Linked DNA regions of Homo sapiens: region 1 is linked to region 2. Evidence: fine-mapped expression QTL. A gene starts in region 2. The other region holds a variant in brackets. All regions are shown on one strand. Distances are between the middles of the regions. Region 1 overlaps WDR49 (WD repeat domain 49). Region 2 holds the start of WDR49 (WD repeat domain 49).

What was found.
Region 1: its variant is fine-mapped to the expression of WDR49 in nasal epithelium (TOPMed, PIP above 0.99).

The regions. Positions count from the first base shown.
Region 1 is chr3:167,523,490-167,539,803 of GRCh38, forward strand. WDR49 (WD repeat domain 49) reads right to left here. Exons shown (of 19, transcript NM_001366157.1): 11 at 13,381-13,511; 12 at 9,390-9,488; 13 at 7,626-7,790; 14 at 5,563-5,750; 15 at 4,331-4,528. Among named protein-coding and RNA genes, the nearest start is that of SERPINI2, 58 kb to the left of the region's middle. The variant G/C (reference allele first, on the strand shown) is at 5,116.
Region 2 is chr3:167,644,325-167,660,638 of GRCh38, forward strand. WDR49 (WD repeat domain 49) reads right to left here and starts at 9,618. Exons shown (of 19, transcript NM_001366157.1): 1 at 9,510-9,618; 2 at 8,937-9,175. The coding sequence starts at 9,101. RefSeq lists enhancers at 8,832-9,355, 9,356-9,878.

The DNA.
Region 1 (16,314 bases), 120 kb before region 2:
ATCTAAGTTTTAAGCTCCACATGCATTAGGTATTTATCCTAATGCTCTACCTCCCCTTTCCCCCACCCCGCAACAGTCCCCGGTGAGTGATGTTCCTCTCCCTGTGTCCATGTGTTCTAATTGTTCAACTCTCACTTATGAGTGAGAACATGTGGTGTTTGGTTTTCTGTTCCTGTGTTAGTTTGCTGAGGATGATGGTTTCCAGCTTCATCCATGTCCTTGCAAAGACAAGAACTCATCCTGTTTTATGGCTGCGTAGTATTCCATGGTTTATATGTGCCACATTTTCTTTTTCTGGTCTATCATTGATGGGTATTTGGGTTGGTTCCAAGTCTTTGCTATTGTAAATAGTGCTGCAAAAAACATACATGTGCATGTGTATTTAATAGTAGAATGATTTATAATCCACTGAGTATATATTCAGTAATGGGATTCCTGAATCAAATGGTATTTCTTGTTCTAGATCCTTGAGGAGTTGCCACACTGTCTTCCACAGTGGTTGAACTAATTTGCACTCTCACCAACAGTGTAAAAGCATTCCTATTTCTCCACATCCTCACCAGCATCTGTTGTTTCCAGACTTTTTAATGATTGCCATTCTAACTGATGTGGGATGGTATCTCATTATGGTTTTGATATGCATTTCTCTAATGACCAGTGATAATGAGCTTTTTTTCAGTGTTTTTTGGCCACATAAATACCTTCTTTTGAGAAGTGTCTGTTCATATCCTTCACTCACGTTTCGATGAGGTTGTTTGGTTTCTTTCTTGTACATTTGTTTAAGTTCCTCATAGATTCTGGATATTAGACCTTTGTCAGATAGATAGATTGATTGATTGCAAAAATTTTCTCCCATTCTGTAGGTTGCCTGTTCACCCTGATGATATTTTCTTTTGCTGTGCAGAAGCTTTTTAGCTTAATTAGATTGCATTTGTCAACTTCAGCTTTTGCTGCAATTGCTTTTGGTATTTTAGTCATGATGTCTTTGCCCATGCCTATGTCCTGTATGGTTTTGCCTAGGTTTTCTTCTAGGGTTTTTATAGTTTTAGGTTTTACATTTAAGTCTTTAATCCATTTTGAGTTAATTTTTGTATAAGGTATAAGAAAGGGGTCCAATTTCTGTATTCTGCTTATGGCTAGCCAGTTTTCCCAGCACCATTTATTAAATAGGGAATAATTTCCCCATTGTTTGTTTATGTAAGGTTTGTCAAAGATCAGATGGTTGTAGGTGTGTGGTGTTATTTATGAGGCCTCTGTTCTATTCCATTGGTCTCTTTATCTGTTTTGGTACCAGTACCATGCTGTTTTGGTTACTGTAGCCTTGTAGTATAGTTTGATGTCAGGTAGCATGATGTCTCCAGCTTTGTTCTTTTTGCTTAGGATTGTATTGGCAACATGGGCTCTTTTTCAGTTCCATATAAAATTTAAAGTAGTTTTTTCCAGTTCTGTGAAGAAAGCCAATGGTAGCTTGATGGGAATAGCATTGAATCTATAAATTACTTTGGGCAGTATGGCCATTTTCATGATATCGATTCTTCCTGTTCATGAGCATGGAGTGTTTTTCCATTTGTTTGTGTCCTCCCTGATTTCCTTGAGCAACGATTTGTAGTTCTCCTTGAAGAGGTCCTTCATGTCCCTTGTAAGTTGTATTCCTAGGTATTTTATTTTCTTTGTAGCTATTGTGAATGGGAATTCGCTCATGATTGGGCTCTCTGCTTGTCTATTATTGGTGTACAGGAATGCTTGTGATTTTTGCACATTAATTTTGTATCCTGAGACTTTGCTGAAGTTCTTTATCAACTTAAGGAGTTTTTGGGCTGAGACAATGGGGTTTTCTAAATATACAATCACGTTGTATGCAAACAGAGACAATTTGACTTCCTCTCTGCATATTTGAATACCCTTTATTTCTTTCTCTTGCCTGATTGCTCTTTTTTTAAGAGAAATGAGAAACTTGAATCTTTACATGAAATCTATTATTGTTTAAATGTGGGCAACTAAATCAAATTTTAATTATTCACTGGATGAAGAGACACAATCAAAGTCACTGGACATCAAATCAATCAGATGAGGAGAGTTGCCAGTACATAAATTCTGCCTAGCACAACAGTAGTTAGTGCACAAAGTGGGGCACTGAAGAATTTCAAGCATCATTTGAATTTCTTCTTATCCCACAATCACCTGTCAGCTTCGTGGGATAAACATGCATTTATGAATAAATCCTCTTCACTCCTATTTCTCCAACTCTAGAAATAGACATACCATACAACTTACTTTTAAAAATCTAACCTGAAAACCAGCCTAAGGTCAATAGCTATGTTATAAAAGTGATTCTAATTTTTGTTTTTTTGTTAAACAAACAAACAAACAACAAAAAAAAACTTCCCTTTTCTCCTCTCTCTTTCCTTTCCCTCTTTTCCTTTCCCTTTCCCCTCCTTTCTGTTTCTTCTTCCCCACACTCTTTGCTCTACATCTTGGGACTAATGGCACTTATATTCAAGACAGCTTGATAAAAGTCAATCCTTTAAAAAATAAAAATTAAAAAAAAGAAGTAGTGCAAGCAGAAGGAACTAGAAAACCGTTTTCCCCAGATTTGCTAGCCTTCAATTTGTAAAACTGACCCAGCTCTGATGACTCTTCTCCTGTCTTGAACAGAAGGGAAAAAATAAAATTATTCTCATGAGGGCTTTTTGCATCTTCAAAAAAGCAAGACTTCACAGAAACAACAAATAATATCAATAATACAAAAATAAGCAGTTTTACAAGCACACATTTCTGAATTAAAATAAAATTTAGCTACAGATTATGTTTGGTGGGTGAACTTTATATGGCACCTACACCTAGAACGGTGTTATTTCTTGGTTCGACCCCGGATGTCTAAGGAACTTCTTAGGTCACCCACTTGATGACGTTTCGTTTCTTTACCTGTTGTTCAAACCTCCACCTCATCTTGCCACAGCCTCTGTCAGCAATGCTTTGGCTTCTTCAGTGGCCTGAAGCAGGCTTCCACCCTCTTTCCTGTCCAGACTGCCAGCCATGTCCCACCCTGTCTCACTCATCACAAGCCTGTATGAGTTCCCACTTAGCCGCTTTTTTTCCTGACTGAGAAAAGTCTAGTGCTTGTCTTATTTACAAAATACAAGAGATTGCTACAGCTCCGGAGTGTTACATTGAGACTGTCGTCTAGCCAATGTGGGTCCACCTCCCAGATGATTTTCTGATTTACCAACACCCTCTGCATCCTAAAGGGGTGCTTAGAATTCTTTCCACACAGGTTGGCCTCATCAAACTGACTTTACAAATACAGCAACAACAAACCTTGTCTTCCAACACTAAAAGAATTGCCTACTCTCCTGGCATAAGATTGGCACCTGAGGCTCCTAAATAGAACCAAATCAGCTGGCCAAACAGATATTGAGGCTTCACTTAAACTTATACCAGGTTTGAATAGTACTGGTTGAAACCAGTGAAACATATTTTGTCCGCAAAAGCACAAATGGAACAGGAAAAGTTCCCAAGAAAGCAAAAGGAAAAAATAACAGAAAATATGAGACTAAATATTTCCTTTCTTTCATGACTCCCATTTCCATTTCATTTCATAGGCAGGAGCAAGTCAGATCTTGAGAAAGGGGTTAAAAATGTGAGCTCTGAAGTGACCCAACTTGAGTTAAAAACAAAACTCTACCACGATTAGCTTCTGTGAGCTCAGGTGATTTATTCAAACTCTCTGTGCCTCTGTTTCCTTATCTGTAAAATGGGAATTGTGAGAGCTGCTCCCTCCTGAGTTGAGCAATTGTGAAGATTAAATGAGTTAATTCTTGAAAAACATCTTAGAACAGTACCCCACGTACACAAGAAAAACTCAGCAAATGTTAACTATTATTATTTGGCAGCAGTAAACCAGATAATGAATAGGATGATTGGTTTTTTTTTCTAAAATTTTCTGCATTTGATTATTACGTTCTTAGTTAACAGTCATAATCACCTGTCTTTTTAGTTACATGATCATTTTATCCACGTTGAACTTTTACTAAATGTTGAAATTGAAGAAATTTATTCTAGAGGAGAATTTTTTCTCAGAAATCCTAGAATATTTTGAGCTGCACAGAGCCCCCATCTTTCCATGTCTCTGGTGTCTTCCACTTGATGGAACTGTCTTGGTTAATGGAAAACAGGGCAAGAGTCGCCTGGAGCTACTGCTTCGGAAATGTTGTCAGTTCTTTCATGACTAATGAACATTAAACAGCTGATGAGATTCAAATAGAAATCAGCCCAAGTTAATACTAAATGTCAAGTAAATACTAGAATAATAAAGAAGCAATATTTCTACCTGACCAAAGATCCAAACAGGAGCATTGCAGACACCAGTCACACAAATACTGCAGTCTGCAGAGGAGGAGATAATCAGTAACTGACCACCTGGCTCACACATCTCTAAGGAACTTATTCGGTCCTCATGAGGTTGGAATGATCTTATCAGAGTTGGGGCCTTGGTGATTTTGTTCTTACTGGAGTTAAGACAGTACTCCTGAATGAAAAGAAATACCAGAACTCTAAAAAATTCAAATATGAAATGATTACAATGACATAACACTTTTAAAAAAAGGCCGATTTTCAAACTTGGGAACAATAACCTATGATCCAAATGCAAAAGAAAAGTTCATGATAAAAGAGGCTAGAAAACGAAATTACATTAAAAAAAGGTTTCTAACTTATCTGATTACTTGGGAAATAAAAAAAAGGAACTAGTGGGGAAGGAGGAAGGAAAGAAAAATATAAATAGTAAAGCCAATTATTTGATAGAGATGAACTTTACCACATACAGGTGGTCACATATACAACGTTCAAATATTATTAGAAAATTGAGCAGGTAATCAGTGATAAAAAAGAAAAAATCCCAAACTAACTCAGGGTAACAATAATGTTAAATGAAGGAATAGTCCTCTAGTATTTAAATTACATTTACAATCTCATTGCAGATAAGGTGTAGCCTCACCCCAGGCAACCTAGTGAGACCCTGTCTCTACAAAAAGTAAAATAAATAAAATAAAATAAAATAAAATAAAATAAAATAAAATAATTAGCTGGGCATAGTGGAACACTCCTGTAGTCCTA[G/C]CTACTCAGGAGGCTGAGGTGGGAGGATGGCTGGAACCAGGAGTTTGAAGTTGCAGAGAGCTATAATCATGCCACTGCACTCCAGTCTAGGTGACAGAGGGAGATCCTGTCTCAAAATAAATAAATAAATACATACATACATTAAAAATAAGGTGTATCCTAATTATTTACATTCAAATAATGCTGCAGTGCTTTACTAACAATATTGCATTTCTAAATTGGATGACTTACTTAACAGAAGGTTGTCAATATTGAGAAAAACATGATTTTCCTCATTAATTATTTAAAAGAAGTCTCTGCATGAAACTTGTAAATGTTTTATTTAAAACACTTAGACTATACATTTTTTCCTTTGTTTAGGAGACAGACAAGGCTTGATTCATAGTTACCTGCAACAAAGGGTCACCAAAAATCTTAAAGGTAATGTGATAATGTTTTTCAATTTACCTCTATATTCCAGATTTTCAACCATCCATCAAGATCTCCTGTGGTAAGGTATCGATTCATCTTATCAGTAGACATAATAATCGATCCAACTCCACTATGAGCCAAAAATTCAGCCAGAAGTTGCTTCTTATATATATCCCAAAATCTGACATAACCAGATCCTCCACATGATACCAGGTTAGCTCCTCCTAACATGTAAGGGAAAAATCTAACTAGAAAACTGAACAACAAATGCCAGAAATAACTTCTTCAGTGGCTTTCCCTGTGGAAAGCATGTGATGTTGAAGAGGTGAGTAGCCCTGAGATCAATTCCCAGCACCACTTTAATTTTCTCAAATATAAAATGGAGGTGACGCTATGATAACCTCACTGGTTTGTGTTGAGTATTAAATGAGATAGGATATTGAAGTGTTCCATTACGTTTAGTTCCCTTTTCTTCATTCATTATTCTGATGTTTTGGGGGTATTTAAAAGTTAGATAGAATTGTTTCTTCAGATAAAACATGAAATATTAATTCCAACATTATGATAATATTCTCATTATATAAAATTAATCTTCCCTAATAACCCACTGGACATATACAATGAAGTAAAAGTCCATATGCACAGATTTGGATGGAATATGTAGTGATAGCAGAATAGCTATTGACTTCTCCGTTTGGCAGCATGCTTAGAATTCTATTTATGAGCTTTCTTTAAATGTTTTCATCAATAATTCATTGTAAACCCTTATAAAACCCCTTTTTGGTGAATGAGCCTAGAACTAACCTTTTCATTTTCCATTTTTATAGGTTTTGTTGAAGCACTTTACCTAAGTTATTCTTTTGTGGCAAGGTTCCTATTATTTGATAAATCTGTAGATGACTTCCAGTTTGCTTCACAAATGTACTGCCAATAAACAATCATATCTATTTAAGGTAGAAATAATAACATGTAGCTGCTTCAGTGAGAACAATCTGGGAATACTGATAACATTAAAATTAGTATTGAGGAAATGAGAGTAATTTCAGGATAATAATTCATATTGTGAGTATAAGCAAGTTCTAGAAAATGGAAAGTTTTAGAATCTAATTGTTTCAAAGTTTATTCTAAACATCCCAGAATGTTTTTAAACTATACCTTTATTGATTCTTAATGATTAAAAATTTTATATGAAAATTATACAGATTTTCATCTGTAAATTAAATATGGGAAACAATAAACATAATTCAGATATGTTCATTTCCTTTTCAAATACATAATACATATATGTCTAGTTCCTAATGTTAAGAAAAATATACCCTGAAGATACGATTGTTATTTTAGATGAAAGGTAAAAAAATATACATTATTCTCCAAGGCAGATTTTCATTTTGGAAAGATGCAGGCTGCATCAACACCATGCTAATATTGCCACTGACAACAAGGAAAAAATTAAGCAAATGGTTATTTCACTTACATAATATCATATAACTACAGTAAATCATAAAATAGCATCAATGTTAGTATACATCTCTGGAGAAGATATAACCAATACTTAAAAAAAAAAACAAAACGATGAGAACAGAGAAGAGAGCAGGCAGCTCTTGTCCTGGGATTAGCAATTCTTTCAAATTCTGTTACTGTTCTTAACATCCATGCTCCTCATTATTCTCTTCCAGCCTATTTTGATTAGGTGCTCATATAGTCAGTCTCAGACTCAACTTTTCTGCTATATGTGGACTTAAGCTTTGACTTCGGCATACATCTTGCTGTGCCCCTACTGTATTAAAACCTCTTTATGACAGGTCTGGGACAACAATTCTGATTGTTGCCCGTATCCAATAATTTGTCAGAATTTTTCCCATCTTGATCTTGACATATACAACACTGGATAAATTAGTAGTGGGATGTAGTCTGGCTCCTGCTCTTGAATCCATCCTCCTCAATTCCAACTTCCTTTGCCATGGTCTGTGACCTCACTTGACACACTACTGACTGGTTAGCTACGTGCAGTCAAATTCTACAAGATCTAGTAGAAATAGATTGGATTTTCTTTATTGCTCCCTTTCCAACTATATGTAAAATGTAAATATATATTTTACCTGTCACTGCAGTGTTTTTTCTTGCTTTAAGAAAGCAAAGTCTCATAACAGCATTTTTGCCCTCAGTGTCAATCTCAAAGTTGCGGACTCCCGTGGTAGAATGGTCTGCCATGGGGTGGGAGGGTTGGCTTCTCCCAGCACTGAGAAGTTTTTGAGGTTTTGTATCTGTGAGGGAGACAAAGCCAAGTATATTAATGAAGAAAAATATCTGCTTTTCAAACTAATGCCTATGAAATAGCAGGCCCACATCTATCACTATATCCATTGACTCCAAGTCTCACAAGAGACTTCCAGTCAACATCTATCAAGCCTTCTGCTATTTCTCAACCCCAACTTGAAGAATTGTTTGACATTATTTTTGTTTTTCATGTTCCATACACACTTGCTCTGTTTTCACTTGATATGAATTAAGTAAGAACTTAATATTGGCATCAATGCTAACATCTTAGGGATCCTAATATGCCCAGGACAAACGTAATTCCAATACTGTGGCATTTTCAACTTATTAATCATTAAAATTAATCTTGGAAATATTATAATGAACATGAGTTCTAAAGACTATTTATGTTTAATTAAATGAGCCTTTTTAACAATACTATTTGTTAGCGAGTTACTCTGGAGAAAACATTTCTAAGCATACTTCAATTATCTAATGACATCATCTCCAGGCCACACTAGTAAACACTGGGGATATTCGTCTCAGAATCTAGGAACAGTCTGCCCATAGTTATGAAAAATCTATACAGACGTATTTTCAAAATTCCAAAATAAGAAATCTATTGCAATGCCTTTCATGTCTTTTAGAAATTTGATATTTATTCACTTTTCTCATTAATTATCTCTCTGTGTATTGTAAAGCCCAGTGTAGAAGAAGAGGCAGAATTCCAACCTCCTCATGGCAAGTTCAGATGAATCTTAAAATGATTAGCTCTTAGTACATAAAGCAGGTCAGAGCTTTGTGTTTGCAACCAAGTATCCCCTAAATCTCTTAAGTTTGTTTTCCTACTCTTAAGAAAATAGCTTCTCAGCTTTTCACCCAAAAAGAAAACTGCATCTGATGATCAGTCCATTCCTAAAGTTCAATTCAGCCTCTATGAGTTTATTCAGTTGAGACAACAGAACCTCACTGGGCCATGAAGAATGACATTTTCATTACCAAAATAAATTAGTCTAAAGAAAAACCTTTAGTATCTAAGGAAACTGAAATAAAATGTGAAAGGCAATTGTCAAGACATTTTACTTAAGTATAAAATATTCATGTGCTCTGCTAAACTCCCATAAAATACAATATACTCCCATCTAATGTTCCTCATGGGCTTCTAAAGCAAGGAATAATTTAAGATTTCCAGGTGGCATAATATTTATTACAAGCTCTAGATTGAGTCTGAACAGCCTATCGAGTGAACATGAATTTCCATTTTTTTACCAAAGGGTATCTAACGTTCACTCTTAGGTAATTTGGCAAGGTTTATTGAAAAAAAATAAACTAAATAAAAATGACAGTCTTGCTCCCTGCTGTCGGTAGTTCAGAAATACCAATGTAGCATAAAGAGAAGAAATGGCATGCCATGGAGAGTGTGCTAAGCCAAGTAAATCTCAAGGTTCTCTTTAGCTACTTTGGCAAGACAATGATATCCTTAATCCTTCAGGCTTATAGCCAATCATCTATAATTTAGGATCAAGTCGCATCAGGCACATGCATGAACAACCAGGCCTACTGTGATTTGACTAGCCATGTTATTTTCGTTTCAAACTCACACTTACCTAATTTTGACTTTAGCAACCTCTGGTAATCAGGGTGAAGAACATGGTGAGCATTCTCTGTGCTATTGTTCCATAGAACAATTTCTCCATCATAACTCCCTACACAAGACAGGATGGAGAATATAAATTGCCAGGAGATTAAGATAGAAAATATGAGCAACAGCAATCAGAAGAAGTTATTAGCAACATATCTTCCACAGAATATGGCACATAGTGGGCACTCTATATTTTTAGAAACATGAATAATAATAATTGGTATTTGTTTTAACTCTAGAGCTTACAATCCCCACAGTATAACCTGAGCATGGGTGTGTAGAAATTACTGTTGTTTCCTTTTATTTTATGGTAATAAAGCATTCAGAACAGATGCTTTGCAAATAAAAAACTGGAGCTTGAGTCTTGGTTCTCCCACTTACTGTGTGACCTTGGGCATGTTATTTAACTCTGCTTGATGCTGCAATTTTCTCATCTATAAAAAAGAGTTAATAATTTTATTTATCTCATAGGGTTATTGTAGAGAATGAAAGTATTTACAATAGCACTGAGCATATTGTAAGTACTGGAAAAAATGTTAATTACCATCCTACTTTTTATTATTGGGTAAAAGCAAGTAAATCAAGTCCTCCTATGTTTCTGTTTCCTACATCCCTTCTTGTGTGTGTATGTGTGTGGGTGGGTGTGTGTGTCTTCTCTTCATACTTTCCCTCCTATATTGAATACTGAATATTGTCTTTATTGAATATTGTCTTCTCCAATCCTGAAGTTTTTCCTACAGAAAGTCCTTCAGTACTGCTCTTCACAGAGAACAGAGAAAAGCCCAAATAGCCCAAAAGCCCAAAGTGAGGTGAAGTCTGAGCAACCATGTCCTGTGGAGGAACAAAGCAGCAACGCCCAGACCATTGTTCTCAGTGGCTCAGTGAGGACAGCTACCCACTGAGCAGAGTGTCTATGGTAAGGAGAGCAGAAGAGTTTGGGTGGGATGTACAAATGGTGACTTTTTTGGGATTAGGGGAGAGGAGAGAGAAATGCACACCAAACTCTGTATTGTCCTAGAAAGAGCAATCTCTTTGGGAGGCCGAGGTGGGCAGATCAGGAGGTCAGGAGTTCGAGACCAGCCTGGCCAACATGGTGAAACCCCGTCTCTACTAAAGATACAAAAAAAAAAACTTAGCTGGGTGTGGTGGCATGTGCCTGTAATCCCAGCTACTAGGGAGGCTGAGGCAGCAGAATCACTTGAACCCTGGAGGCAGAGGTTGCAGTGAGCCGAGATTACACCATTGCACTCCAGCCTGGGCGACAGAGTGAGACTCCACTCCATCCAAAAAAAAAGAAAAAGAAAGCACAATCTCTGAAGCTCACAAATTGAACCAGGGGGATGGAGTTCAGCTGTCCATAGAAATATCCATCTTCTCCTATGCTTTACTAGCAGTGACTGACCAAATATTTCCACATAGGATTGATGGGAGGAGAATGAGTGAAGAGATTGTCTACCCACCAATACAACGGTATTTACTAATACTTTCACAATAACAACCACACCATTTTACACTTCAGTGCCCATCACATTTCAGGATGTGATCCTCCCTGCAGGGGTGGCCTTCCAGTGGCTATAAAGCTAATTTACCTACAGAGTTGGCCTTACTAGAAAGTAATTTCATTAGTCCTGAAAACAGGGGAACTTTAAATATAGATAGATCAGTAAACCTCATATTGTAACACTTCATAGATACCCTGGATCTTTTCCTGTAAGTTTTCATTCCTCTTAATTGATGACATTTTTGGTTCTATAAAAAAAATTCAGCTGTCAAAATATGGACTTGAAAATTTCATGGTGCAATCTGTCTCTATAAATTGCATTCTTTGGCCAGAAATGATACAACAATTTTTCATTCTCTTTAATATGCCACATCAAAGCATGCCTATGAATCATTTTAAGAGCTTGGATTTGTAGACATTTTGTGAGGACAGACTTTTATCAACATTATCTGGGCTAAATTATGCCAAAGAGTTACTATGTTCACATTATGAAACATCTAAGTGCCACCAACGTGTGATTCGTACCTGACAGCCCTAAAGCTGCTCCTGGAAAATGGACAATACAAATAAAAGCTAATATTTATGGATGAGCTTATTGTGTGCTGAGCACTGTGTTAAATGCTTGCACAGATAATCTGAACTATAAACCAAAATATAGATATATTATTATCAGCCAGACAAAATTATGATTTAGAGTTTAAATAACTTGCTCATTATCAAGTTGTGGCAATTGGTAGAGCCGTGAGGGGAAATCAGACAGCCAGGCACAGGAGCTGATGATCAGAACTACCAATATATTTCCCTAGAAATAAGGATAAAGAAGAGCAAGTGCTGCTTCTTCAAAAATCTATTCATGCTCAAAGGAAACCATCAACAAAGCAAAGAGACAACCTACAAAATGGGAGAAGATAGTTGCAAACTTTACATCTGATAGTATAAGGGGTTAATATCCAAAATATATAACAAAATCAAACAACTCTGCAACAAAGAAAACCTGATTTAAAAATGGACAAAAGACCTGAATAAACATTTCTCAAAAGAAGACACACAAATGGCCAACAGACATACGAAAAAATGTTCAACATCACTGATTATCAGGGAAATACAAATCAAAACAACCTAAGTGAGTGAGACATCACTTCATTCCAGTCAGAATGGCTCCTATCAAAAAATCAAAAGATAAAAGTATTGGTGAAGATATGGGGCAGAGGAAACACTTACATATGGCTGGTGGGAATGTAAATTAGTATAGCCTTTATGGAAAATGATATGGAGGAATTGAAAATAGAACTACCATATGATCCAGAAATTCCACTACTGGGTAAGGAAATGAAATCAGCATGTGGAAGAGATATCTGCACCACACCCTTATGTTTTTTGCAGCATTATTCACAAAAGCCAAGATATAAAATCAACTTAAATGTCCATCAATGAATAAATGAATAAAGAAAATGTGGTATATATACACACTGGAATAGTATTCAGCCATAAAAAGAATAAAAGCTTGTCATTTGCAGCAACATGAATGAACCTGGTGGACATTATGTTAGGTGAAATAAGCCAGGCATATAAAGACAAATATCACATCATATCACTTAGTTGTGGAATCTAAAAAGTTATTCTCATAAAAGCAGAGTAGAACAGTGGATACCAGAGGATGGGGAGGGGAGACAGGAGGGGTGAGAGATTGGTCAATGGGTAAAAAGCTAGTTATATGGGAGGAATGAGTTTTGGTGTTCTATTGCATAGTAGGATGACTAGAGTTAACAATAATGTATTGTATACTTCAAAATAGCTAGAAAAAAGATTTTTTAATGTTCTCATCACTAAGATATGATATATGTGTAAGGCTATTAATATGCTAATTACCATGATCTGATCATTGCACAATTTATACATGTATTGAAACATCATGTTGTGCCTCATAAATATGTACAATTATTAATATTATGTGTCAATCATAAATTTAAAAAGAAATATATGGCCGGGCACAGTGGCTCACGCCTGTAATCCCAGCACTTTGGGAGGCTGATGCAGGTGAATTGCTTGAGCTCAGGAGTTTGAGATCAGCCTGGACAACATGGCAAAAACCCATCTCTACTAAAAATACAAAAAACTGGCCAGGCATGGTGGGGCGTGCCTGTGGTCCCAGCTACTCAGGAGGCTGAGGTGGGAGGATCACTTGAACCTGGCAGGTGGAGGTTACAATCAGCTGAGATCTGGCCACTGCACTCTAGCCTGGGCAACAGAGTAAGACCCCATCTCAAAATACATATATATATATATATATACACACACATATATATATATATATATATACACACACACACACATACATATACATATATATATATATAAAACAACTGAGAAAAAGCTTTTCTAAAGGTGAGTGAGCCAAAACAAACCAAAACAAATCAAACTTCACCAATGATTGTCAAGTGAAAGTTCAATTTACCCGTAACAAGAGTTTGTGGAGGTAAAAACGCAGCACACAAGATGTCATCATGGTGCTGTATACCTCCTTTCCATTCTTCAGGCTGGATGAAAAATTGATTGAAGTTTTGGGGTCGAAACACAGTAATAGCCCTAGCAAAAAGGATATAGAATTTAGCTGTGGATCTAAAATTGATGTAGACATTGAGTAGCCACTATCCACTTGAATGATGTGATCCAAGACTTTTAAAAGACTATGCTGCCCAAAATTTATCCCCACTTGACAACCATAATACTGAGTTTCCCACACTAAACATTTTTATTACCTCATTAAATTATCTGGTAAATTATAAATTTTTGACAATAGAAGGTTAATTATCCTTTCATAATCGTTAACAACAAACCATGTAACAATTTATCAGATTAATTATCCATCACCACGACCCTAAAGCAAAGTTTCCCCACATGGGTATTATGAAATCACCGAGTTTTATAGCAATAACAATTAAAAGAGGGGGCAGGCCTATGAACAAATAATGTTTTGTACTTCAAACAAAGTCAATAAGGGTTTTTTTTCATCAATTTTCTCAGGATATTTAGCACTCCTTGTGGCATTTTCAAGACTTACCTGATCACAGAATCCATTCTCTTGGAGTCTACAGCATCTTGAAGAACTACAATTTGTGGAACATACTTGGAAAATGCCACCCCAAAGAAGTAGGACATAGGACAGATACATTTTGAACAGAAAGAACAGTATTAGAGAGGTCAGTATCTTCTGGCACTGCTGATAAATTTGAGGACAGGACAGGATGGGCAAAGAATGAAATGCCTTGTGCCTGGTGGGGAAGGGAGGAGTGTAAAGATTCCATTGTTGGGGCATTAATACCACCCTGTTTTCACTTGATGATCCGAGCTCTGGCCATCAGCCTATACTAAGCCTCTTGTTCCTTCTAGAGCCATCTAGATCTCATGTGAGCATTTGCAACCAAAGTTATGGGGTCTTTCACCATCATTCTCTCTTCACCTTCCTGAAATCTTTTATTCCCACCACTCTAAAGGTCTCTTAGTTGTCCTACCAGTGTTACTCCTCAGCCTCAGAGTTTCCAGTATGTTCTGCTTCTCTTCCTGCCTCCTGATCTTTCTTTCCCCACTCTTTATTTTCTATTCCCTTCTTTCTCTCACCCTTTTTAACATGTGGTATATATACACAATGGAACATTCCTTATCTTCATTCCTCCCTTTCTCTCTATCCACTCAAACTGGCTTAGAGATTTCATATATCACCATGAGTTCCAATGTCACTGCTATACAAATGGCTCTTAAATTCTCTTCATTCATAATCTTTGCTAGAAATAGTTTCCATTTGCCAGTTGACAGTTCTGTATAATGCTTCCATCTGCAAAAGATCTCAACATGTCAAAAATCCAAATTTGACATCTTCCCTCCATACCAGCCCTCTGTCTGCAATTCCCAAATATGGTTAATAGACCAACATTCCAGCCTCTTTGGGTGTCTTTCTCTTCCCCAGTCAAATCAAATACTTAGATTATATCTCTGCAATATGTTACATATTCGTTTCTTACTATTTTACTTCAAACAGTCAATGACAGTTTCCTAGTTCTGTGCTAACTACCTCATGGTTGACTTATTGTAACAGCGTACTGACAAATTTTACTGCTTCTAGTCTACCCATCTCTGGCACATTCTTCATCTGGCTACTAGATTAATTATTCTACTCTGGGGCATTTTCATTTATTCTATAAGAATTTCTTATTTGCCATGTGGAAGTCACTTTGTTCATAGTGATGCAGGGTACAGAGCCGTCAGCATAAAATGACTAAAATTCAAGGTAAAATGTGGTAAGTGCTAAGGCATTACTGATCAACTGCCATGAAAGGCCAGCATAGAAATCAAAGAAGGCTGAGTTGAACACTGATATTTGAACTGGACCATAAAATATGGGTAGGATTTGCAAGATGAAAACACTCTGGATGGAGAAAACAACATGATAAAAGATAAGGCTAATGCCCCATTAGAAAGCCTTTGCTAGTTTTTTCGTTTAGTATATGATAAAATTCAAATGTGGAGCTCTGTTATTTAAGACCCAATAATACATAGATCTAATCTATGTTTTCAGAATTATTTCCCTCTATTCTTCTATCCTTGCTTTTCAGTTATATATGAATATCCAATTAAGTATTTGAGAGAGGCACTGGAAGCCATAGAGTAAATATGGTACACCTTCTTAAGTGTTAATTTTGCTCAAAAAGTTTAAGGAAGAATAATTTTCTATTAAAATAAAGATAGATGAATTAATGCAAGAGAACGCAAAGTTTGCCTGAATTTCAAAAAAAGAATTCAAAGTTTTAAATTTATTTTTTGCTTGCAGTAGCTGTTTTGAATTGTTAGGAGCTAAGTTTCTGAAGTACACCTTCTTGTCCAACCCAAACAATATTCTTAGTCTTCTCTAGGTACCTCTTATATTTCTGTCGGTTTTGTTTTCATTCATGGTATACTTTTTCATGCCTCTATGAATTTCTTTTTACACACAGACCCACATCTACCTATTCACACACCAACTCTCTAAGGCCCATCTTATTCAGGTAGAATTCCTTAATAACTAGGATTAAAAGAAATAGTTCCTCTTCTGACCTCTTAACATCATTCACATTTAACTTGTAACATTTAATGTTATACAGTTTCAGCTCCTTGGCTAAATTATAAATTCTGAAACCATGCATCTTGTCTTAATCTGTAACCGTACAGTAGCAAGCATAGTGACCTATACATATTGAGTGTTCAATAAATATCTGTCACATAAATGAAGAAAAAAATTATCTGCTTAAATGTCACCTACTCAGGCAAGCCTTCCCTGACCACCCTATCTGAAGACTCTCTGAGTCTCTCATCTCTCACTCTATTTCATTTTTTATAACACTTACTACTGTATGAC
Region 2 (16,314 bases):
TTATGGTATAGATAAGGTGCCCACAAACCCATTTGCTATAACTTGCCCCACTACAATCACAGTTCTCTTTTTCTATAACCTCTACACCACATAAATATGTACATTTTTTATTTTAGAATATGATTATGCATTATTCTGTGATTTTCTTGTTTTCACTGAACATCAAATCTTGGGCAATCTTACATAAGTCTTCCTTATTCTTTTTAATAACTGAGTAATAGGAGTATACCACAATTTACTTATCCATTCATCCAGTTGATGAATATTTGGGTTATAAATACTCCAGTTTGTAAGTGATATTACAATCATATTTTTGCATGTATTTTTTTCTGTACTTCAGAATGTATTTAGGGAAGCTTGGAGGATTAGAATTGCTGATTAAAAAGTATACATGTGGTACATTTTATATTTGATATATAAAGGCAAATTGCCTTCCAGAAAAGCTTTGTCAATTTACAATCTTAGTAAGAGTGCCTATTCCCTTGGTTCTTCACCATCAGTGAATGTTATTGATCTTTTTAATATTTGCCAATCTGATGATTATAAAAAGAACGTCTTCTTTCTGATTAGAGTATCAAATCAAATTCTTAACAAGTTTGGGTGCCTTTTCACATGATTAGAAGCTATTTATGTAGCATTCTTTCTTGAATACATAAAATATAATATATGTAAATATATTCTACATTAAAAAAGCTACATGAGATATGTATATGTGTATATATGGATAAAAATGCACTTAAAATACACCAGAAAATATTAAGAGTAGTTACCCAGGGGAGTATAATGACTGAGAATGGACCATGCTAAGGGGGAAATTTCATGTTTAGCTTGGATTTTTTACCATGAGAATAATGTTACTTTTATTTATTTAATTTAATTTATTTATTTATTTATTTTTAGTTTTGAGATTGAGTTTCGCTCAGTCACCCAGGCTGAAGTGCAGTGGTGCAATCTCAGCTCACTGCAACCTTCACCTCCCGGGTTCAAGCAATTCTCCCCCCTCAGCCTCCCGAGTAGCTGGGATTACAGACACCTGCCATAATGCCTGGCTAGTTTTCGTATTTTTGTAGAGATGGGATTTTACCATGTTGGCCAAGCTAGTCTTGAACTCCTGACCTCAAGTAGTTGTGCCCGCCTTGGCCTCCCAAAGTTCTGGGATTACAGGCGTGAGTCACCATGCCCAGTCTTATTTATTTTAATAATACAAGGATTGCTAAATAGGAATCATAAAAATAAATGAAATTTTATATGGCTGGCTATACCCTCCTTTTTTGTTTGTTTGCTTCTTCTCCTTCTACTTCTGGAAAATAACTCAGCTGCTTTATTTCTTGTACCAACTCCAGTTGTTTCTCCACCACCTTGAAGAATTTTGTAAGGTCCAGTCTTAAACAGTCTGTTCTCTCCTACAGATATCTCATCTCATGGCCTCTCTCCTCCAGAATCTATGTTGCGATTCTCTCACACTCAATTTTGTCTCTCATAGCCTGCCTGGGACTTCTATTTGACTTTAAACAAATAATGGCATTGCGTTAATCAGAGCATCTATGATGAAAGCAACCAAAGGAACATATAGGAAGCTATGAGAAGAGAAAACAGGGTCATTGTAGGGCGCTAATCCCGCCTGCATGGTAAGAAAAGGCTTTCCTAAGGCAGTGGTATTTACACACATGTGAGTAGGAGTTGGCCAGGAAATTGTTGGGGATGGGAGAGAAATATTCCAAACTGAGGCACCAGCATCTGGTAGGCCCTAAAACAGGAGTAAGTAAAATATGATCAGCATGACTGAAACTCTTTGGGTAATGGCCCAGGTCAGATAATTTTGTGATGGACTCATTGGAACCATAAATCCAGACTAAACACCTGTGTGTGTGTTGGGAGTTGAGAGGAGGGGAGTTGCACCAGAAGGAAGAAGGAAGGATTCCCCTGAAAGGAATAGATCTTCCCATTCTTTACAGTCCTAGGAAGGGAACATGGAAAAATAGGTCTTAGACTAGAGTGAAGAGAAATATTTTCTGCTATCTCTGGGGCCAAGGATCAGTTTGGCCTCTGGGTTCTAAGACATGGGCAGTCTGATGTGTTTATAGTGGGATTGAGGAGCTGAGAGTAGCTCCTTGCCACAAATATATGTCCAGAAGTGAGGAAGCAGAACAAGTTAGTACGAAGTCATGAGAAAGGGTTCGAAGCAGCATTGTCCAATGGAACTTTCTGCAATGATGAAAATGTTCTATATTCTTTGCAGTCCAGTATAGTAGCTACTGCGTACTTGAAATGGCTGGTGCTTGTGAGGAACTGAACTTTATTTTATGAAATTCTTACTTTATTTAAATAACCAAATGTAGCACATATTGAAGAGTACACATCTGTAGCAAAACTAGTGTGATAATTTGGCCTTGGGTCTATTGAGAAGATTAGAGAAAGGTGTACACATGCACACATGGGAAGTGAAGCAGTAGAGGAACATAATGTCTCTGGTAATGCCTCCACAGAGATGTCGGTGCCTAGAGAATCAGGATTTCATAATAGTCACATCCATAGAACGTTGGTGAGACATGATGAAGGGAGAAAAGACCCCAAGGGGCTTTTTCTTGCACAAGTATGAGGTAGAGCCTTGGGAAACGGTCAGAAATCACTAAGGGACAGTTTAGAGGATTCCTATTTCTAGCAATAGAGTGAGGGTGTCTTGTGTCATCATTAATACGTTATACTTGGCAAAATGTGACAAATTGAAACCAAAATGCCACAAATAATGGTTCTTTCATTCTTTTATTCATTTTTCTTGTTTAACTCTCAGGAAAATTTCAAAAGTAGCAGTGCCCTTAGTTCACAAGTCTGGCTAAGCTGATGCACTACACATGAACAGCAGTAGACATCTTTGCTTTCTTTCTCCCTCCCTCCTCTGTAACAAGCTTTTCTTGGTTGTCTTCACTTCTCCAGTTTTGGCCAACACTCAAGGTTAAACCACTTGTTTACTAAAGGCACTCTTCATCACACACTGATCCAGATTAATTTTTGTAAGTGCCTGTTGTAAAAGTACACAGAGAGTTTGAAAAGGCAGGAAGCTGTTAGAACTTGTCACAAAAATCAGCACAAAGGCAGCAGGATTTGGAAGGCAAATTTTTCATTTGTAGTGAGATACAACTTCACTTCCTTGAGTTTTGGTGATGACGCCATTTGCTAGCATTATTCATGAATTTTAACAAATCAGATAAAACCACCACAGAATTCCTCTGCCATTTCTAATTGTGCCAACTGCAGTAGTATTGGATTTGTCTTCATGCTATCACCTTAATGTTTTCTGCTGCCATTAAAAATAGGTATTTTGATTGCACTAAGAGCAATGCGTGAGAAATGGTATGACCTGCTGTCTTTGTTCAGCAGATGATGAATTGACTGAGGCTGCAGAATGCACTTTTTACTATATACAGGTGAGACTAAGCTTCACCTGTTTACCTTCTCACAAGTCTCCACTGAGATGCCTTTAGAAAGAAAAAAATATTTTTCAAAAAAGCAATTGGTTATTATCTTCTTTTCATTCTTCCACCCTTTCTCTACCTTGATTTCATTGTAGCAGTTGTTGATTATTTGCTGATTATGCGTTAGTTCCAAGTTAGCAGAGCACAGGGCCTGTGCACTATTAACTTAACATGCATTTTGTTTAGGAAATCTTTATCCTGTTGGATTCATGTTCCTTAGAGCAACATGCCAAAGGAAGGTTATCTTGTGGCCAGTGGAAATCATGCCATATATGGACTCCAAAGTTGACAATCTGCCTCTGAGTTCTGGCTCTGCCCATGGGAGAATTCAATTGAATATTTTTAGTCCTTCATCTCCTTATTTGTAAATGGGAAGTAAAAATTTATGCCGTGCCTATGTTTCAGGCTGGTAAAGGATCAAATAACATGATGCCAACATAAGTGCTTTATAAAATCTTACTATACTTGAAAGGTATTCAATTTTTATTCATCATTTTTACCTACACTGATTTCCAGAAAGAATTTTAGTTCAGTTACAACAGAAGATACATAGGCAATAGGACCGACTATTAAAACAAAGATAAAAGAACAAGAATTATATAATAAAATAGCAGATTATTGTCCCAGAAAACCTAAGTTAAGCATAGTTGTAAGAGTTGAACACTAAATTTAGCTTTGAACTTCCTGGCAGCTAAGACAGAACACAAAATACAATTAGACACAAAGGTCTCCATAATTTACAAACTGAAGCATGCTGGTTCATTAGGAGAGAAGGAAATTTTCCTCCCACAAAATTCTAAGAGGACCATGGGTGAGATCATTATCTGGGCACACAGCTGTCCCTACTTGCCATACGACTTGAAGTAACTTGAAGTTACCTGTAGCCATATGACTGAGTGCTGGCCAATGGGATGTGAGCTGGACCACAGAAAACATTCCCTAGTGCTCTCCACTGCTACCAGCTGATGTATGGCTTGTGTAGAAGGCGGAAGGTGGGGACAGCCTGAGACCTGAATCCTTGCTTGCAACTGCTTACCCATTAGAAATACCTGCTTTTTACTTTATGTGAACAGGAAATAATACCTCTGTCATGTTGCAGATATTATATATTTTACACAGTTTGCATACACTATAAAAAATATTTTCTAATTCTCAGCATTGTTGGATAGCATAATATCCAACTTTATACCTTAACAGTTTTATCTAAGAAAAAATTTTAAATGAACTTTATGGACCATCTCATTTTATCAGAGATAAGAACATCTAAAGGTTCTGGGGAAAGGGAGTGAAACAAAAATGAGTAATTTTATTTATGTGTTTGGGATGGTGGTGCCTGGGTAGAAAGGCAAGAAGGAAGATATAAGAATAGTTTTGGAGTATGAGACACGTCTAGGAAGACCTGTTCATTTGGGTACCTTAGTAGTGAAGGTACAATGGGCAATGAGAAGGCCTAGAGAAGGATGGGTCCTCCATAAATTTGGAGGAAGCTTGACAGTTTAGAAAGAAGGACAAGTTAAAAAAAAGGTAAGAAAAGGCCCAATCTGACTTTCTATATTCCTGTAGAGCCTAGCTTGCCTGGCAGGACATCAACATCCTCAGCTTTGTCTTGAAGCAAACAAGCACAGTTCATAGACCCTGCTGTAGAATGCTTTCTAAAATCCCCAAGATACTGTTGAGGTGTTTTGGGAATTTTATAAAGATAATCAAGGATGAGAATATCAAAATTCTTTAAATGTAATTGTATTACCCGTTAAGCACAATTCTAGAACTTGCAGAATTGACTACTGAACTTCTCCAGTCTTTTGAGATTCAGTTTGAATAAGTGCATTGTGTTTAGATCTCATTCACCTCCAAGACAGATTTGTTTTAAGAATTCTCACCACACAGTCTCTGGGGCAGTCTTGCTAGGATTTTTACTGTGCCTTTCTTACACTAAAACTATTTGGCCCTTCCTACTTTAAGGATAAATACCTCACATTTTACATGTGGCTTCTAGGTATAGTTAAAGCTAAAGATTTAGTAGGGCTTGGGCAAATGATAGCATGGAGCTGACAGGGTAAAGCCAGCCTCCAGCTCTCAGCTTACAGTCAGGCCAGAACAGGTGTGCCAGGAGAAGATATAGACACAGTTGCTGATAAAGGCAGTTCAGGACCTAACCTGGAGAGCCCAGGAGCACAGGGCAAACTATGGTCTCAGACCAAACGGGCAGCAATTAATCTAGGATCAAGGTCCAATGTTAAACCATCATTGACATACAGAGATCAACAATGGAGAATGTAAAAAAAGAAACACTCAGAACCTACATAGCCAGACTCTCAGGAGAAGCTCAATAAATATCAAGCTCCATGGCTTTCCCAAAGTTCCATTTTCCTTAGACCAAAATTTTTACTTCTCACCACTCCTATAAAATCAGCAAACCACAGCTACTCTTCCTCAAACAATAGTTGGCTTTTGGAGTTTCAAAGAAAATGTAAAATATGGTTGACATCAAAATAATATGAGCATCCAGAGACCATGTCATTTCTCTAAGTATTGTAAGTGCTACAGGGAAGTTTGAGTAACAACCATTTTACGATTCTATGAATAATGCAAGTTTCTCTCCCTTCAGGCTGATATATGGCTCTTTTGACACCATCACTTAAAGGAAAATGAAATCCACAAGTTACTTTTCTGTGCTTCTACCCAGGTAACTTATTTGTTCCAAAGAAAAGAATCAAGACGTCAATTAGAATTTTTGCCTGCTAAGAAAATATGAAATGAGAGATAGAACAATTATGCTTTTGACTCTTCTATGTGAATTTATGTCTTTGCAGCTCTAACCACTTCCTTCCACAACTAATAGGAATGAAGACGCATAGCAGCAAGTGTCACTTGAAGTTTAATTTCCTTTAAGAAAAGTATGAATTAGAATCAAGGCACTGTCAGAGGTCACATGGTTTAACTTCTACTTACTAAATGAGATAATTAGCTCAATTATCTAATGTTAATTGAGCACTTACTCTCTGTGGCATGCACTTTTTAAAGTGCTTTCCAGATAGTACCTCCTCTAATCTTCATGAAAGCTCTGTTATCCTCATGTTAGAAATAAAGGAAACTGAGGCCCAGAGAGATTAAGTATTTGCACAGAGTCACATTGTAAGTAGCAAAGCCGGGATTTAAGCTCAGGAAATCTGACTCCTAGATCTGAAACACTGCATGATTCTGATCCATTTATACAACTGCACAATGAACATAAGCACTAATTGCTTTATTCCTAAATGTTACTACTACGATTAGTATGGTATGTGATATTTTATTCGGAAATACACGTAAAACATTTACTGCATAATTCAAAGACCCAACTTCCTGTTTTTTCACTTAAGAATTGCCACTGCTATTTAAGGAGATGGACTTCACCTAATATCTGACAACTCTTCAGCCCCAAACAAGCAATCTGTGTAAGAAAAAAAAAATGAAGATATAAAGGAATCTGGTGCCAGAATCTTGACATTTCTAAGAGCATGTCCTTAGTAACTGGACCACAAATCACTGCCTTTAGAGTTCAAAGTTGCAGGAATGCTATTGAGGGCATTTTATCCTTTTACAGCAATCTATACCTGTGGCCTCTGGGCCTAAAACTCATGACAGATGGACTGGATACCATTAAAGTCATCTAGTGCATCATTCTTCTTTAGGTGTCCGTGCTGTGTTTGGAAATCATGTTGGCTCAAAGGTCTAACTTTTAGTACTGGCTGCACATGTGCCATGGGATTATTCCATTCTCTGGCTGTTGAGTCTGCTAAAATGGATGAACTTCATTTTTTTTTTTTGAAGGTACACCTGCAAAGCTCAATTTCTTTTTTAGAAAAACTGTCTATGTTCATACAAGCTCCGAATTACCTTCTCTTCTCCTCTTTGGTCCATTAGTTCCTGCTTTTCCAACCGGTAATGTCAAAATAAGTGGTCTGGCCTTTGAAATATTTAACATAAAATAGAAATAAATTAAAACTTGAGGTTGAATTTTCCAGTTTCACTTGGGTTCATTCAAGACTAATCTGCAGTTTGGAAAGAACACCCACCTCTAACCTTCTGAAGCAGTTTCACCAACACATCAACTTTATAATGTAGACTCTCCTAATAGGCCCTAGCATTCAAATTCTTTGTGTTCTTAGCACCGGAACAAAACTGCCACATTTCTGTTCACTATAGAGTCAAAGCTGTCATAATCTGCTGTTATGTTTTACTGAATGTCCTCAAGCTGTCAAAATGTTTGCTATGTCTATCAAAATATGCTAAATTTACTTGGGGCACTGGGCATGAGCAGCAGCAGTGAAATCTTTCAGACAAATGAGGTTGGTTGAATAGCAAATATATGAAGGTTGAAATGAGAAAAGTGTAGGACAGAGCATGTCTTGCTACTAAATATGATAAGTTCTATTATAAAGAAATGATTGATACTATTGGGACATTAATTTATCAATACAGGTGGAACCCAACTTGTTATATTCTTTTGTGGATATCCAAAGATAAAAATGTGTGCCTATTACAGGCTAATATATTGTGAGCTTTTATTATATTTTATTAATTTCCAGGTGGTATTCCAAAATATTTTCTATTTCAAATTAGTATGGATACTCCAAGCACCCACGGACAATCTTAAGAAGGCCCTAGATCATACTTTAGTAAACATAATATAGTAGAAATGTTGGAGGCTCATGACTACCTAAATTCTACGTCATGGAAGAGCACTTCTTTCTACCCATATTTGAAACTAAAAACCACTTTGATGTATGCTGTTCATTATGCATAGCTGCAGAATTCAAAATTCATTGACTAAGAGAGAAGAAAATTATTCATTTACAGTTAAATTCCTATGGTTTATTTTTTATGCAGAGTTAAAATGAAAAATTCTAATTTTGTTTTTATTGGCATTGTTCCAGGATTTACAAAATGAGTGGGAGACTCGTCCCTCATAAGGGATCTTGGGACAACAAAGTGCCAGAATCAGCTTAGAAAAGGAGCTGTGCCACTTAGGGTGAGTGAGACAGGAGGAAATTTTTTGCAAACTGGGTATGCATATTTGCATTTGCTGAGTTCTATGTCCGTATTAAATGCAAGAACAATTATTCCTGGAGGTCACCTTAGAGATCTGGCTTTCTTCACTCACAGCCATAATTTTTTGTTTCCCCAAAATATGTTGATCTCTAAGAAAAAAATTTTTTCCAACAATAAATAGTTCTTTCTTGATAGTAATGAAATTCAGTGAAGCAATTTCAAACTAAAGAATATTATTTGGCCCAAAGAACTGAGGGGCAAAGCTACCAAGCACATTGTGTTAAATCCAGGCCTAACCAATTATTTTTAATTCTCTGCTATAACAATTAAGTGTATTTTTTTAATGCTTAAAGAAAAATATCTCTGTGTTTCATTCTAGGCTCCTTCATGAACAACTCAAACTATCTGGTCAATAAGCTTCACACTTACCTCAAAGGCCTTCTGTATTTTTACAAAGTCACCCACGCTGAGTTGGTTTTCAAGCAGGCCTGTGCCATAGTCTTCAAATGCAGTTACACCTTCTGTTCTCTCAGGACTCTTTGGCCCAAGCTGTGACCCTATGTTTAACTCAAGTACAGCTTTCTGGCAACTCATAATGGCTTCACCTTTTCTCAGTTGCCTTCAACTATTTCTATAAGGATGGATCTTCTTTTTCCTTCAACAGGTGCCTTTGAAAAGAAACTCAACTTAGCAACAGAATTCCAAAATGAAAGTACAAACCTTTCAAGGCATACGATCAGGAGGCAAAATGTTCAAGCTGAGGTAGGAAATGAAAGCCCTCAACCCTCTCACTTATTTGATTCTAGAGTTTATTTTCAAAATTTACAGTTGAATGCTTTTAAAATGGTATTTTTACCCCTTCCTTATACTCTGTTTAACCTGGCTTGATTAAAAATGTGTAAAGCTTTCCCCACATTTATAGTAACTGACACAGAAAACAACTTCCAATCCTCATTTTAAATGCATTAGAAAAGCACCTTCCCAAAAATCTCTTTAACTAACCTTGCTTCCATTAACATGTTGTAGTTTTCAATTCCACTTTCTTGTCTGGAAGAGTTAGATGACAAAGCTGCAGAGTTTCCCTACCAATGAAGTACTTGACTCTGAATGCCACCTTCCCAGCAATGTGGAGTTGTTTGTTTCATCTGTTCTGATCCTTTTGTATGTTTCCTGGCAACCAACACAAAGCCAACTAAAACTTTCCCTTTCACTTCCCCCTCTCCAACTGAAAGTTTAAATATATAATGTAAATGTTGAAATGGTTTTTTTTGAAATAAAAGGACAGTTCATTCCACTCATTTTTTATTAAACGACATCTTGTATTATTTAAAGACAACTTTTACCATTATATAGGATATATATTATGAAACTATATGATTAGTCAAAGAGAAAAGCATGAAATTCTGGAATTTTATGTTTTATACACAGAAAATGTTTTATTTTTATATAAAAGGAATCTGTTTCTTATATTCTTTTTGTCTTAGTTTCTATGTATATAAAATAGAGATGGTTCAAAAAAGCTTCCAACTTGTTGAAAATGTGATAAAAAAACACAGCATAACATAATATGATAAATCTAATGATAAAATTGCTTGCAGTGTCATTACTGGTTCAGCTAATAATAATGAAAAGGAGGAGAAAAAGAAGAAAAATTAACATTTTTTGAGTATTAACCATGTGCCAGGCACTAAAACTTTATGTTCATTGTCTTGTTTAAGCTTCACAACAATCCTACAAGGCAGATGTGATCATTATCCCCATTTTACTGATAAAGAAGCAAAAAGCCGGGCAAGGTGGCTCACGCCTGTAATCCCTGCACTTTGGGAGGCTGAGGCAGGTGGATGGCTTCAGCTCAGGAGTTCGAGAGCAGCCTGGGCAACATGACGAGACATTGTATCTAGTAAAAATACAAAAATAATCAGCCGAGCATGGTGGCGCACACCTGTGATCCCAGCTACTCGGGAGGCTGAGTTAGAAGGATCCCTTGAACCTGGGGGGCAGAGGTTGCAGTGAGCCAAGATTGTGCCACTGCACTCCAGCCTGGGCAACAGAATGAGACCCTGTCTCAAAAAAGAAAAAAAAAAAAAGCAAAGAAAATGCCAAAGGTCACACAAATAGTAACATACGGAAGAGAACAGAATGGCTCCCAAACTTCAGATACTGCATGTATTAGTCTGTTTTCACACTGCTAATGAAGACATACCTGAGACTGGGTAATTTATAAAGGAAAGAGGTTTAATTGACTCATAATTTCACATGGCTGGGGAGGCCTCAAAATCATGACAGAAAGCTAATGAGGGCAAAGTCATGACTTACATGGCAGTAGGCAAGACAGCATGTGCAGGGTAACTCCCATTTATAAAACCATCAGATCTCATGAGACTTATTCACTACCAGGAGAACAGTATGGGGAAACCGCCCCCTTGAGTCAATTATCTCCACCTGGCCACGCCCTTGTCATGTGAGGATTATTACAATTCAAGGTGAGATTTGGGTGGGGACACTGCCCAACTGTATCACTGCACTTTAGATGGATGTGCCCGTTGCACTTTATTTTCACTTCTGTAAACTAAAAAGTTGGCATTACATCTTCTCTAGGGTCTCTTCCGGCTCTAACATTCTCTGAGCTGGTGTTCACTAGAGGCATGGTACAGAACAGAGAGAAGAGCATCCTGTAGGAGTTCCTGTACCCATTATAGAAAAAAATGAAGTTTCATTCATGCTTTCATTTTTTCATCCATCTCTCATTATTCTTTCAAAAAAAACATTTATTAAGAGCCTAATAGGCAGGGCACGGTGGCTCATGCCTGTAATTCCATATTTTGGGAAGCCAAGACAGGCAGATCACTTGAGGTCAGGAGTTCAAGACCAGCCTGGCCAACATGGAGGAACCCCGTCTCTACTAAAAATATAAAAATTAGCTGGGCATGGTGGCAGGCGCCTGTAATCCCAGCTACTTGGGAGGCTGAGGCAGGAGAATCGCTTGAACCTGGGAGGCGGAGGTTGCAGTGAGCCAAGATCACGCCACTGCCCTCCAGCCTGAGTGACAGAGATAGACACTGTCTCTCTCTCTCTCTCTATCTCTCTCTCTCTCTATATATATATATGCCTAATATATGTCAAGTCCTGAATTGTGACCTGGTGCCTGCCATAAGGGCTTTACAGTCTAGTCAGGGCAATTATCCGTCTAGCTCATCTTTAATGCCAATTCCAACCTCTTGTGTTCAGTGTTCCAACACAGTGCTGTGTTCAGAGCATTCTGAAGCCATAGCTAGGCTCAAAGGGAAAGAGTGGCATTATAGATGTGTATATATGTATTGATATGTATCACACACACAGAACGGGGGTGTATTTACCAGATTTGCTTTTCTTCGATAAGTCCTTCTTGTAAGTTAGGAAAACATTTTTAAGCCCTAATACTACAAGTTCCCCTAAGTTATCTTACATGGGAACACGATTTGTCTTCTTATCACCCTAGTTAGTAAGTTAATAATACTTTAAATCAGCTGGATCAGCCCCATAAATGTTTGTAAAATGTTTTATAGTGATATTCTAGAGAGTTGGGCTTAGTTCAGTAGCAGACACTAATGAGGGAAGGGAGAAGAAATAGGAAAAACATTCTGTAAAGATGAACCACGAGAGGTAGGTATCCCACTGGCTGACAATGCAAAATTCTCTAATTATTCTAAGACAGACAAGATGCCTGGCCTACTTAGCTTCCATAAAGTTGCAGCCCTAAATGTTTTCATTAGTCAAAACAGGAAAGTATAATGAGCAGCTAACAAATTACAGTAGAAGTTAATCAATTGACACAGTTTTCTTGCTATAAAATTATGACATTAGAAATAATTCTTGATCATAAAGGCTTAAATGGCTCTAACCTTCTCTGTAACTGTGTGGTTAATTTTCAGGTTAAATTCCTGCGGCACTGTAAAATCCATAACTAGTGTCTTGACTGGTGAAATTTTCCCTCTTGCTTGCCATGAATCAAGTATGATATTGTGAAAATCAAGATGGTGACAGTTTAATCACCTTTAGAAGGCCAAAAAGCAGATTGACACTTGCCCCCTTCTCCTGTAGGGATCAGACAACACCTGCCAGCATAGTGGAGCCCTAAGCACCAAGAGGGCAGAGTAAGCTGATACATCCATTGGCCTTTGACACTTTGGGACTGAATAATTCTCCCCACCGAATAGACACACCCATCTGTGTCTTTATCACAATTCACAGTCCACACCCAAATCCCTGCTCTCTCCTTCCCCCACAATTTATTGCCACTGACATAAATATAGACCTTCCTTTTATATTATTTAAGGACTACTTTTTACCATTATATTTTCTACAAAGTAGGATACATATTATGAAACAATATGATTAGCCAAAGAAAAGAGCATTAAATTCTGGAATTGTATGTTTTACACAGAGAAAATGTTTTATTCTTAAAGGATAGGAATCCATTCCTTATATTCTTTTTGTCTTAGTTTCTATGTATATAAAATAGAAATGGTCCAAAAAAGCTTCCAACTTATTGAAAATGTGAGAAAAACACAGTATACCATAATATAATAAATCTAATGATAAAACTGGTTCAGCTAATAATAAAGACAAATGAGATACATCTCTATGCCCACCATTGCTCAGAGACACATGTCTGAGCATAACATGCCCTACAAGGCAGTTATGATCATTAGCCCCATTCTCCTCCCCCCCCACAATTTATCCCCACCAACATATAGATCTCCCTTTTCCTTTTCTTCTAACTCCTCTTTCTTTCTTTGCCCACCATTCACACTGAAGCCTGTTCTTACTCGTTAATCTTTGCCTAAATTCTCCCTCCACCTCCTCACTTCAACTGAAATCAGTTTTACCTTAGGAACCTCATTTCCGGCCCAGCCTTCTCAGGTCCTCACTGCTCCTTGTTCTTCTCAAGTCCTCACTGCTCCTTCTCAAGTCCTCACTGCTACAGGAAGAGAAAGAAAGGATGTTTTTCCCATCATCTTCTTGCCTCTTGACCTCATGCCTTCCAGCAAAGCCCCAGACACCCGCTGGCTCTGTGTAAAGGAACCTCCTCTCAAAGCCTGGGGAAAGCTCTGGCCCTGCCCTTGGCACCTTTTAAGCCCTCAACAGATATTAGTTTCTTTCCTTCTTTGTTCCTTATCCTCCCAGTTAGAATTAATTACTCCTTTCACTCTGCAACCACAGCATTTTTTTCAGACTTTAAACACAGCACTGTTTCTTCCTGCTTTGTAATGTAATTAGTTGTCTGTGTATCTCTCTCTCCCATTAGATTAACTCCTAAGAACAGGGATGATACCTCACTAATGCTGCAGCCTTACATTGCCCAACATGGTGTTCTGCATAAACTTCTCGACACTACAGCAATGTATGCTCATTTGTAAACAAGGTGGGTAAAGGAGACATTCACCTATAACCTTGAGTTATCAAGCAAGGGTCCTGGGAATAGGCGGCATTGAATCAGAAGGAGAAGCAGAATTCTGTGAAAAAAAGAAAATCATATGACTCAAAGGTCATTAAGAAAAAGAGAGAAAGAAAATTAGTGACAGAAATGAAATTTGAGACAGTATCTTCAAGCCACTTAAAATTATCAAGTGCTTTTTGAAAAAATGCATTTTCTTCATACAATTTCTGTGTAATGTACAAATATGTGTTGAAGCTTTACTCTGTCCCAGGTGCTGCTTCTAAACACTGGAAAAGCAAAGATAAATGAGATACATCTCTATGCCCACCATTGCTCAGAGACACATGTCACAGTAAATGTTGGCTTTCAATTAATCCTATCTTTTGAGAAAGTAGTTTCCATTGTTAAATTAACAACACTGTAATTTTTAAATCATTTTCTTTCTTTCCTTTTTTTTTTTTTTTTTTTTTTGAGACAGAGTTTTGCCTTGTCACCCAGGCTGGCGTGCAGTGCTCTGATCACAGCTCACTTCAGCATCAACTTCACAGGCCCTTCCACCTCAGCCTCCCAAGTAGCTGTGATTACAGGAATGTGTCACCATGCCTGGCTAATTTTAAAACTTTTGTGTAGAAACGGGGTCTTCCTATGTTGCCCAGGCTAATCTCAAATTACTGAGCTTAAGCCATCCCGCTGCCTCAGCCTCCCAAAGAGCTGGGATTATAGGCATGAGTCACTGTACTCAGACAAAACTGTATTTTCATAACAGCATTTCTCAAACTTTTCAAGTATTTGAACACAGAATTATTGAAATAATGATATCCTAAAACAACTAAATATATAATTTTGCAGTAAATTACATATCATAAAGAAGCAAGCAGCGGTAGCTAAATTTAAAAATAGATGCGGAAATAGATTGTAAAACTGAGAAAATTATTGACTTAAATGTTCTAACTTACTTGAAAAAAGCCCACTAAGACTTTATCAGTAGACACTTAGGATCCGCTGAATTTAATATTGAGATCAGTACTTAAAAGTATTCATGGCTGGGCACAGTGACTCACGCCTGTAATCCCAGCACTTTGGGAGGCCAAGGCAGGTGGATCACTTGAGGTCAGGAGTTCAAGACCAGCCTGGCCAACATGGTGAAACCCTGTCTCTACAAAAATACAAAAAATAGCCGGGCATTGTAGCACACACCTGTAATCCCAGCTACTCAGGAGGCTGAGGCAGGAGAATTGCTTGAACCCGGGAGGCTGAAGTTGCAGTGAGCCAAGATCGCGTCATTGCACTCCAGCCTGGCAACAGAGTGAGGCTGTCTCAAAAAAAAAAAAAGTAGTCAGAAGGTCAATCTATTTATGCAAATTCTGATGAGTATTTCCAACAACGAATCACTTTTGTCCCTCTTTGCTTTAGCATATCTTCTCTTTGAAATCCAGCATCCTTGTTTTCAGTCACACGTGGGTCTCTCAGTCATCAGTGGGGCCTTCATAAGGGAGCCACTTACTCGGCAATTGCTCTGAACTAGCTTACTAAATTCCTTTCCATTGCCTCTCTGAGAAAACTGCCTGCTATTCTACCTGGGGCTTTAGAACAGTGTGTCAAAGCCACCTAGATATCGAACACTCGCATTCATGTTTAGAGCCACTAGAAAACAGTCAAAAAATCATTGCATGAAAGGAGTCACTGATAATCCAGTAAGCATTTACTGATTGTCTCCTTGAAGAAAGACAGAAAGCAGTTAGGTGGGAAATGAACAATTATTGAGCTCCTAGTATATGCCAAACATTGTGTTAAGCACTTTCACAAATGTTATTTTACTTAATTCTTGTGATATCTCTGCAAGATACCTAATGTTTTCTCTCTTTTTTTGACAGATGAGGAAACTAAAACAAAAAATATCTCATCCAACTTCATACAACTTGCAAATTCTATAATGTAGCAATGCCAATAGAATGACGTTATGCACTTTAAGAACATTACATAGATTAGTTCCTTTAATTTTCCTGGAAATCCTATGATATGGGCACTATTATTGTCATCATTTTTAGCTGAAGAAACTGAGGCTTAGGCAGGGCAAATGACGTGTTAGGATCATCCAGCAAGAAGTAGAAAAGCTGGAGTTCAAATCCCAAGTTTCTCCATAGTATAAAGCCCTGTGCAGGGTAGACTGCTAAACACCACAATAAATTCTAACCCAGTTCAGGAGCTAAAACGTGCAAAAAGTAAAGAAATAAGAAAGCCCATACTAGGAAATAAAGTCAAATGGGCTTAAAATTTGGAGTCAGAATACCAGGTTCAAGTCTTGTTTCTCTCATTTTCAGCCCTATCATCTTGGGCAGGTTGAGTCATTTCTCAAAATGAAGATAGCAGAATTGTTTATCTCATAGA